Linked DNA regions of Homo sapiens: region 2 is linked to region 1. The links come from fine-mapping of genetic effects on gene expression. Tissue or cell type: tibial artery. Region 1 holds a variant in brackets; the other region holds the start of a gene. All regions are shown on one strand. Distances are between the middles of the regions.

Evidence for each region. PIP is the estimated chance that this variant, and not a neighbour inherited with it, causes the effect.
Region 2: it holds the start of THOC5, and the variant in region 1 is fine-mapped to the expression of THOC5 in tibial artery (GTEx, PIP above 0.99). The same link has a PIP of 0.9 or more in aorta, atrial appendage, breast, esophagus mucosa, esophagus muscle and fibroblasts.

What each region holds. Positions count from the first base shown.
Region 1 is chr22:29,528,860-29,534,115 of GRCh38, forward strand. THOC5 (THO complex subunit 5) reads right to left here. Exons shown (of 20, transcript NM_003678.5): 8 at 2,972-3,104; 9 at 303-380. Among named protein-coding and RNA genes, the nearest start is that of THOC5, 22 kb to the right of the region's middle. The variant T/C (reference allele first, on the strand shown) is at 2,856.
Region 2 is chr22:29,550,993-29,555,992 of GRCh38, forward strand. THOC5 (THO complex subunit 5) reads right to left here and starts at 2,765. Exons shown (of 20, transcript NM_003678.5): 1 at 2,679-2,765. NIPSNAP1 (nipsnap homolog 1) reads right to left here. Exons shown (of 10, transcript NM_003634.4): 10 at 3,816-5,000. The coding sequence ends at 4,943. RefSeq lists enhancers at 888-1,587, 2,985-3,682, 3,066-3,135 and a silencer at 2,476-2,665.

The sequences.
Region 1 (5,256 bases):
CCACATAACAATCCTACATGAGGTGTTACTATCTGTTTTCACAAAGGAATAAACTGAGGCTCTGAAATATTAAATACCTTCCTCGGGGTCAGTCAGCTAGTGAGTGGCAGGGCTGAAATCCACGGGCCGCACCTTGTGACTCCGGGAAGTGAGCTCTCTTTCCTGTCTACTCCAGGGTGCTAAGACATTCAAGTCAAGCTTCCTGCTACACAGAACTAGTCCAGCTAGTTCTCCAAAGACCAGGACTGCCCTTGGATGGTGACCTGGTGTCCCTGGGGGACGAATCCCAACCACCACATTACCTTGGGAGTCCTCTGGAGGTTTGAACAGAGCCTTGGCTTCATCCACACTGCCTTCGATTGCCACAGATAACGTCTTATCTGGGGGGCAAGAAGAAGTCTGTTAGGAAAGCTGCTGAGGAAAGCTGCTAAGCAGTGTGAGTAGGCCAGCTCTGGGGCTGCATTTCTCCCACCTCTGCCCAGCTCCTTGCTGACTAAGGGTGGAAGGGCAAAAGTCCTTGCTCCAGATGAAGGGAAACAAGGTGGGACACTTAAGCTTTTTTTTCCGTCATTTACTGAGAACAGAGAACTTAAGTACAAATTCCTAAACCAGCATCACCTGAAACTAGCAGTGAATGCCTCTCTTTTTTGGTGCACACCAAAGCACAGAAATTCAAACTGAGGGCCTAAAGCCACATGGAACTCCTCTGCCAGTTGTCTTAGAGGTTCTCACCCAGAAATCCACACCTGTCCACATCCCAGAAACAATGACTCTCACCTAAGTGCTTATTCTCTATTCTACACTATACCAAGCACATGGCTGCCATTGTCTCACTTAACTGGGAGGCAGTAGGACAGTGAATAGGAACTTGGATCTTGCAGTCCAGTTCCAGACCTGAGTCCCTGCCTAACCAATTCTCAAACACATGACCTGGAAAGTTATGTCACTGTCTGAGCCTCAGTTTCTGTATCTATGAAAAGGGGACTTGAAAAATAGTAGCTGCCGGGTGCAGTGGCTCACACCTGTAATCTCAGCACTTTGGGAGGCCGAGGCAGGTGGATCACCTGAGGTCAGGAGTTCAGAGACCAGCCTGGCCAACATGGCAAAATCCCGTCTGTACTAAAAATACAAAAATTAGCTGTGTGTGGTGGCATGTGCCTGTAACCCCATCTACTTGGGAGGCTGAGACAGGAGAATTGCTTGAATCCAGGAGGTGGAGGTTACTGTGAACCAAGATCATGCTACTGCACTGCAGCCTGGGCAACAGAGTGAGACTCTGTCTCAAAAAAAAAAGAAAAAAGAAAAACAGTAGCTGCCCCATTAGTGGTGGGGACTGAATGAGCTGATGCTTGTAATTTTAATTATAAAATTATTAAAAATTAATTTTTAGGCTGGGTGTGGTGGCTCATGTCTGGTTGGGAGGCCAAGGTGAGTGGATCACCTGAGATCAGGAGTTCGAGACCAGCCTGGCCAACATGGTGAAACTCTGTCTCTACTAAATATATAAAAATTAGCCAGGCACGGTGGTGGGTGCCTGTAATCCCAGCTACTTGGGAGGCTGAGGCAGGGAGAATTGCTTGAACCTGGGAAGCAGAGGTTGCAGTGAGCCAAGATCATGCCACTGCACTCCAGCCTGGGCAACAGAGCCAGACTCCATCTCAAAAAAAAAAATTTTTTTTAATACTCACAACAACCCTACAGGAGTAATACATTATAGCCATTTATAGATGAGAAACTTAAGGCTCAGAGAAGCTAGACATCACAGCTATAAGGCTGATAAACCAGGATTCAAGACCAGGTCTGTTCAACTTAAGCTTGGCCTCTCCAGCACATGAGCTAACAGCCTGTTGCATACACCAGGTATGACACCTCATTGAGTGATGTCTTGAGACCCCCTCTGAGGGTCTAGCGTTGTGAGGTCAGACAGGCCACCACCGTCCAACTCCATTCTTAAGGGTACATATGGTCCCAAGAGCCTGAAACGGTTTGCCTAGCCACACTAAGGAGGGATGGCAAACTTCCCCCAAGTGGCTGACCACTGCCTTATCTATGGCAACCCTATGTGAATCACCACCCTTCACCCCAAGCAACTAGTTGCTCCCATCAAGCACTGGCAAACAACAGACTATTTTTTTCAGCCATTTAATATTAGCATTCTACAAGAACATCAGAATGGAACAGGCCGATTTTAAACATAAAAGAAAAGAAAATTACTCACCCTGTCTAGGGGGCTGGGAGGATTTCATATGAGCTGATGATGGAAACAGGAGGGAGAACAAAGGGGAGGGGAGGACCAGAAGGACGAGGAAGACACAAGAAGAGACAGTAATGTGTTGGTGCCCAAGGTGGGAGGAGAAGCAAGCACTGGTGCGGTGTATGTCTGTCTGATGAGGTGGGGTGGGGTGGGGGAGAAAATGTAGGTGCTGGGTGAAAGCTGCATTAGGGCAAAAGGCAGAGTCTCCAAAATTTTCTCAAAACCCTAGCAGAGTCACAGGCTGCCCTCAAGCTTAATGAGGACATATCATCTAACCTGGAAATTCACAACAAAGACATGCAGCCTGATTCAAGGCATGGTGAAAGCCTGGGAGAGCTGGCTGAGACCTGTATTCACCAGGCACCCCCACCCTGAAGCAGAGCAAGAGGCACTGATCTAACTGCCAAGCGTGCCTTGATGGGGTGAGCACCTGGGAGCCCAGACAGGCTGCCTGGGTTCTGCACCCAAGAGCTGTCCAGCCAGGCTCACGAATGACTCAAAGCCACCCATTGTGAAATACCCATCAGGTTAATCCAGCCTTAGGCCAGCTGGTCAGAGCAGCCATGCTGGGCAATGCAGAGGGAAGAAAGCTTCTGTCACC[T/C]GAGGGCTTCGGGCAGGACTGAGAAATTTCCTGAGCAGGTACTGCTTCCAACTGATTCACTCGGCCACAGCTGCTGCTCCCATAGCCCCTTGTCCTCACCCAGGCCCCATACTCACCACAGGCCTGCCCATACGCAGTGGCCTGAACAAAGAGGACATAGAGGGGAGGCGGCAGGTGTCTGGCTGTCTCATACTGCTTGTGAGCCTGGTCGAATGGCATAAACAGGTACTCCTGCACCGGAAGGGAAGCCTGCACACAAGAGACAGATTTTTGTTCTTCCTTTTTTAGCCAGTCCACACAGGAAAAAGTGGCTACTTAGTGACCGTAAATCATTATTTATAAAAGTGATACATGATAAACTAATAGAACTAATAGGTGGATAAAAGCTCAACGTAAACAAAATTATATTTCTTTATACTAGCAACAAACAGTAAGGAAATAAAATTGTTTTATTTTACCTACTGTCAGGGCACCCTGGCTCATGCCCATAGTCCCAGCACTTTGGGAGGCTGAGGCAGGAGGATCACTTGAGGCCAGGAGTTCAAGAGCAGCCTGGGTAACTTAGCGAGATGCCATTTCCACAAAAAATAAAAATCAATTTAAAAAAAGAAATTATAAAAAGATGCCATTTCAATACCATCAATAAAACATCAAATAAGAATAAACAGGCCGGGCATAGTGGCTCACGCCTGTAATCTCAGCACTTTGGGAGGCTGAGGCAGATGGATCACCTGAGGTCGGGAGATCAAGACCAGCCTGACGGACACAGAGAACCCCGTCTCTACTAAAAAAAATACAAAATTAGCTGGGCGTGGTGGCATATGCCTGTAATCCCAGCTACTCGGGAGGCTGAGGCAGGAGCATCACTTGAATCCAGGAAGTGGAGGTTGCGGTGAGCCGAGATCATGCCATTGCACTCCAGCCTGGGCAACAAGAGCAAAACTCTGTCTCAAAAAACAAACAAAAAATAATAAACAAGCAGGCTGGGTGCAGTGGCTCATGCCTGTAATCCCAGCACTTTGGGAGGCCGAGGCAGGTGGATCACCTGAGGTCAGGAGTTTGAGACCAGCCTGGCCAACATGGTGAAACCCAATCTCTGCTATAAATACAAAAATTGGCCAAGTGTGGGGGCACGCACCTGTAATCCCAGCTACTCCAGAGGCTGAGGCAGAAGAATTACTTGAACCTGGGAGACGGAGGTTGCAGTGAGCCAAGATTGTACCACTGCACTCCAGCCTGGGCAAGAGAGCAAGACCCTGCCTCAAAATAAAACAAAATAAAATAAACAAATGAAAGGCATATAAGCCTCTACACAAAAACCTGAGAAATGAAAAGTCTAAAATAAGTGGATACATGTGAATGTCAATGGCCTGGAAGACTCAAATATTGTCCAGGTAACAATTTATTCTAAAGTGGTCTGCAGATTCAATGCAATCCCTGTCAAAATCCCAGCAGGTGAAAACAGACAACCTGATTCTGAAACTTGTATGTAAATGCAAAGGGCCAAGAATAACCAAGACAATCCTGAAGAAATAGGTTGGAACTGTGCATCGAGACTTCTGATAAAGCCACAGTAAATAAGACAGTGTGATACTGTGCAAGGATGGACACAGAGATTATACACATATCCACATGTACAAAGACATTTGATTTGTAACAAAAGTGGCACTACAGAGCAGTGGAAAGAGAATGTCTTCAATAAATGGTCAGCTAAATACCTATGTGGAAAGAAAAAATGAATCTTTACCCTTAACTAACAAAATCACTTCCAGGATGACAACAGATTTAAATAGAAAGATTTCTTAAACAAGACACAAAAAAAGTACTAACCATAAAGGAAAAGAATAATTAGTAAAATTAGGAACATGCACTCATTAAAAGATACCATTAGCAAAGTGAAAAGGCAGGAGGTTACAGAATGGGGAAGACCTGGGAAAAAACTCATCTCCAGGCAACCCAACAGAAAACAGGCAAAAGACTTGCCTAGACCCATCACAAGAGGTTATCCAAAAGGCAAAATGTGCTGTGTTCAACATCACTAGTCCTCAGGGAAATAAAAATTAAAACTATAATGAGATACCCTCCAGAGTAGCCAAAATTAAGGAGACTGACAGTATAAAGTGTTGACAAGGATGTAAAACAATTAGAACTTGCATATGGTGCTGGTGGGAATTTCTGTAAATCGGTACAACCAGTTTAGAAAACTGTTTCAGTGTCTACAAAAGCTAAATATATGTATAACATACTGTATGACCTAGAATTTCATTCCTGGGTATATATTCAACAGACAGATGTACACATGTATGCCAAAACACATGTATAAGAATGCTCATAGCAGCATTATTGAAATGGCCCTAAACCGGAAACAACCAATTACTAAACATCAATGAAAACAAACTCT
Region 2 (5,000 bases), 22 kb after region 1:
ACAAAATCTAGCCAGAGTTTGTTAACAATGATCTAGTTGCATTATATTAACTATATTAATTTTTACCTTCTACATAAAACAAGTGAAAGCAGCTTTCCATTTCTGGTGGAGAGATTTCAAGTTTTCTCTCAAAGTAAATTTGAGTTTAAAAAGTGACTTGGCTGGGCGCAGTGGCTCAGGCCTGTAATCCCAGCACTTTGGGAGGCTGAGGCGGGTGGATCACCTGAGGTCAGGAGTTTGAGACCAGCCTGGCCAACATGGTGAAACCCCGTCAGTACCACAAATACAAAAATTAGCCGGGAGTGGAGGCGGGCGCCTGTAATCTCAGCTACTCAGGAGGCTGAGGTAGGAGAATCACTTGAACCCAGGGAGCAGAGGTTGCAATGAGCCGAGATCGCAGCCACTTCACTCCAGCCTGGGCAACAGAGCGAGATTCAGTCTCAACAACAACAAAAAAAGTGACTGGGCCCAACACCATGGCTCACACCTGTAATCCCAACACTTTGGGAAACCAAGGCAAGCAGAGGTGAGAGAATCGCTTGAGCCCAGGCGTTCAAGACCAGAGTGGGCAACAGAGCGAGACCCCATCTTTAGAAAACATTTTAAAATTAGCCTAGTATGGCGGTGCACACCTGTGGTCCCAAGCTACTCTGGAGGCTAGGGTGGGAGGATGGCTTGAGCCCAGAAGTTCCAGGCTGCAGTGAGCTATGATCGCGCCACTGCACTCAGTCTTGACAACAGAGATCCCGTTGCAAAAAAAAAATTTGGACTGGATTAAAAATTTTTAGTAAACCCCTCCCCCTCCCCCCTCCCCCTCTCTCCACGGTCTCCCTCTGATGCCGAGCCGAAGCTGGACTGTACTGCGGCCATCTCGGCTCACTGGAACCTCTCTGCCTGATTCTCCTGCCTCAGCCTGCCGAGTGCCTGCAATTGCAGGCGCGCGCCGCCACGCCTGACTGGTTTTCGTATTTTTTGGTGGAGACGGGGTTTCGCTGTGTTGGCCAGGCTGGTCTCCAGCTCCTGACCGCGAGTGATCGGCCAGCCTCGGCCTCCCGAGGTGCCAGGATTGCAGACGGAGTCTCGTTCACTCAGTGCTCAATGGTGCCCAGGCTGGAGTGCAGTGGCGTGATCTCGGCTCGCTACAACCTCCACCTCCCAGCCGCCTGCCTTGGCCTCCCAAAGTGCCAAGATTGCAGCCTCTGCCCGGCCGCCACCCCGTCTGGGAAGTGAGGAGCGTCTCTGCCCGGCTGCCCATCATCTGGGATGTGAGGAGCCCCTCTGCCCGGCTGCCCAGTCTGGGAAGTGAGGAGCACCTCTTCCCGGACCCCATCCCGTCTAGGAAGTGAGGAGTGTCTCTGCCCGGCCGCCCATCATCTCAGATGTGGGGAGCACCTCTGCCCCGCCGCCCCGTCTGGGATGTGAGGAGCACCTCTGCCCGGCTGCGACCCCGTCTGGGAGGTGAGGAGCGTCTCTGCCCGGCTGCCCCGTCTGAGAGGTGAGGAGCCCCTCCACCCAGCAGCCGCCCCGTCCGGGAGGTGGGGGGCAGCCCCCGCCCGGCCAGCCGCCCCGTCCGGGGGGGAGGTGGGGGCCAGCCCCAGCCCGGCCAGCCGCCCCGTCGGGTCGGGGGTAGGGGGGCGCCTCCGCCTGGCCGCCACCCCGTCCGGGAGGTGGGGGGCGCCTCTGCCCGGCCGCCCCTTCTGGGAGGTGAGGAGCCCCTCTGCCTGGCCGCCACCCCGTCTGGGAGGTGTACCCAACAGCTCATTGAGAACGGGCCATGATGACGATGGCGGTTTTGTCTAGTAGAGAGGGGGGAAATGTGGGGAAAAGATAGAGAAATCGGATTGTTGCTGTGTCTGTGTGGAGAGAGGTGGACAAGGGAGACTCCATTTTGTTCTGTACTGAGAGAAATTCTTCTGCCTTGGGATGCTGTTGGTCTATAGCCTTACCCCCAACCCCGTGCTCTCTGAAACATGTGCTGTGTCCACTCAGGGTTAAATGGATTAAGGGCGGGGCAAGATGTGCTTTGTTAAACAGAAGCTTGAAGGCAGCATGCTCCTTAAGAGTCATCACCACTCCCTAATCTCAAGTACCCAGGGACACAAACACTGCGGAAGGCTGCAGGGTCCTCTGCCTAGGAAAACCAGAGACCTTTGTTCACTTGTTTATCTGCTGACCTTCCCTCCACTATTGTCCTATGACCCTGCCAAATCCCCTCTGCGAGAAACACCCAAGAATTATCAATAAATACTAAAACAAACAAACAAACAAATTTTTAATAAACGGTAGTAGAGGTGGTAAGTTGATCTGGCAAAGCCTACAAAGACCGGACCTGAAAGGCTTAAGTGTGGGAAATCCTGACTTTGGCAACACAGTAGAGTGCCTGGCACACCGAAGAGCACGATATATGTGAGCTGTTACCATCACCACCACCCCCACCCCCATCAGGCTACATTACCACAATCAAGAGGCTCCAACGTGAAGCCTGAGGATGCTGCAGCGAACACTTTTCGGATGAGGTAACAGCGCAGCGCCGAGAGGCCGGGGACCGCGGGTAGTGAGGGAGGAGAAGCCGGGTCAGACCCCAGCCCAGGGGCGCCCTTTGGGCGATCAGCACCTCAGTCCCGGAGCGCCCAGCCCCGCCCCATCTCCCAGCCCCACTGCCCTTGTCCCCTCCTCACCTCACAGCTCCAAGAACCTGGCACCGGGAGTAAGCCACTGCCGGAGGCGGAGCAAAGCTTGCCCGCGCACCATAGAGAACCGGAAGTAAGGAAGGGGCGGCCGACCGGAAGCGAGGCGTAGAGGCCGGAAGCTCAGCGCGGAGGCCCCCGAGGGAGGTGGTGGCGTGGTGAGACTGTAAAAACAAAGACACATGCTTCTCGTTCACTGTGCCCAGGGCCTAAGAGAGTGTCCAGCAGCTAGTGGGCGCTCCACCGAGTAGTTGAATTAATGTTGTGTTATGTCCAAGATAACACGAAAGAACCTGGTAGCGCGGCGGGGAAGATTTCGGCGCTAGAGGATTTGCCTGCATAACCTTACTTCTTAATTATTATTTTTACCATAATATGCCACGCCAGTGAAGGCAACAAGTCAGGGAGGGCATTAACCTCATTTTACACTTGGCTTTTTGAGGAGTGCATCACCAGTTTCTCCATTTTAGGCCTGACTTGCCCAGGACAGAGTCACAACTCTAACGCAGTATTTGAAAGCTTCAGGTATTTCCTACCCCTGGCATGAACTGTACAAACAAGGCCCAGGATTTTTTCGTGTAAATCCTCATCTGGAGCTAGTAACACGTGTCCTGAATCCCTGGTTGTACGGGGCCAGTTCCTTCTCCTTCCCAGGAGCAAGGAGGAAAATACTGGCTCTTTTTTATTTTTATTTTTATTTGAGACAGAGTTTTGCTCTCTCACCCAGGCTGAAGTGCAGTGGCGCAATCCCCGCTCACTGCAAACTCCGACTCCAGGGTTTAAAGGATTCTCCTGCCTCAGCCTCCTAAGTAGCTGGGATTACAGGCATGCACCACCATGCCCAGCTAATTTTTGTATTTTTAGTAGAGACAGGGTTTCACCATGTTGCCCAGGCTGGTCTTGAACTCCTGACCTCACTCAAGTGATCTGCCCACCTCGGACTTCCAAAATGCTGGGATTACAGGCGTGAGCCACTGCACCCAACCAGTACTGACTGTTGAGAATAGCTCAAGAACACAGTACCCTCCAGGAGGGTAGATCTGCCATGTGGGACTAAGCCCACCAGCTCTACTGTGCCCTGCCTCAGGCACCTGCTAAAGTTCCTTGCAGATGAAGAAAAGACACTGATTTATAGTAAATATTTAATTGTTTCCATCAGCAATTCCAGCACAAGTTTTCCTGGATGGTAGGCAGAATCAAGCTACCCAAGGGTTCATGATGAGGTATGGGGGTCACTGAGGAGACCCCCAGAGTCACTGACCCCTCCCGCCACCTCCACACACCAGGTGGCCCTGCAGAATGAGGGTTGGGCTGATAGAATGTCAATTAGGGGAGACAGGATACAGGGTGAGGGAACAGGGTCTAGCTTGTATATTTGCCTGCAGGAAGGAGGGAGGGCAGGAGAGACTCTGCATAGAAGGACTGGAACTACACATTTAAGTTTTCAACCCCAATATGCAGGGGGAAACAGCCAAGCCACTCTCCATCTGTCTAGTATTAGGAACCTCTCTTCAAGTGGTCTTTTGTCATCTCTGTTCTTCTTCCCAATTCTGTATTCCAGATTCCAAATTCTACAATTGAAACCCAAGTTCTGAATTCTAAGTTCTACCTTCCGAGTTCCTGTTACGTGTCTGTCTCCTGCCCCTAAATCTTTCCTGGCTCCCATCCCTTTCCCCAGCCCCTCTGGGCAGAATGTCTGAACCTCCTCCTGACCGTGGTGACGAGGTTTGTTTGTATTTGTTTTTTTGTTTTGGCAGTTCCAGGCTTTTCTCCAGCAGGAGGGACTTGGCTCAGACTGTCCAGCAAGTGGGTGGCCCAGTGGAAACCAGGGAATTCCTGAGGGCCTGGCCTGGCCTCCTCTCTTCCCACCCCACCTCTAGCCACTGGACATACTACCTTTTGTGCAACTAAGCTAAACAGAGGATTTCCAAGGGTGATAACTGGGGACTGGTGGCCTTGAGATGAGGAATTTTAGAAGATAAATGAAGGCCTAAAAGATCACTATCTTTCATTCAGGGAAATCAGAAACTACTTCTAGCAGGGGGAGGGAGGCAGGCAGGGAAAGTAGAAAGGGCCTGGGCAGAGCTGTAATCCTCAGAACTTGTCAGCCTTCAGTTCCCCCTTGTCTGAACTGAGCACTGCCCCTCAGAGTCCTCCCAGAGCCAAGACAAAACCAAGACAGCAGGACCAGGAGTGCCACTGTCTGTCGGGGTTGCCTGAGGGAGAAGGGGAAGGAGGTGGAGGTGTAGGCAGCATCACTGCAGAGGCGAGATCTTCAAGGGGATCATGATCCTAGACTCCATGTGTCGCACC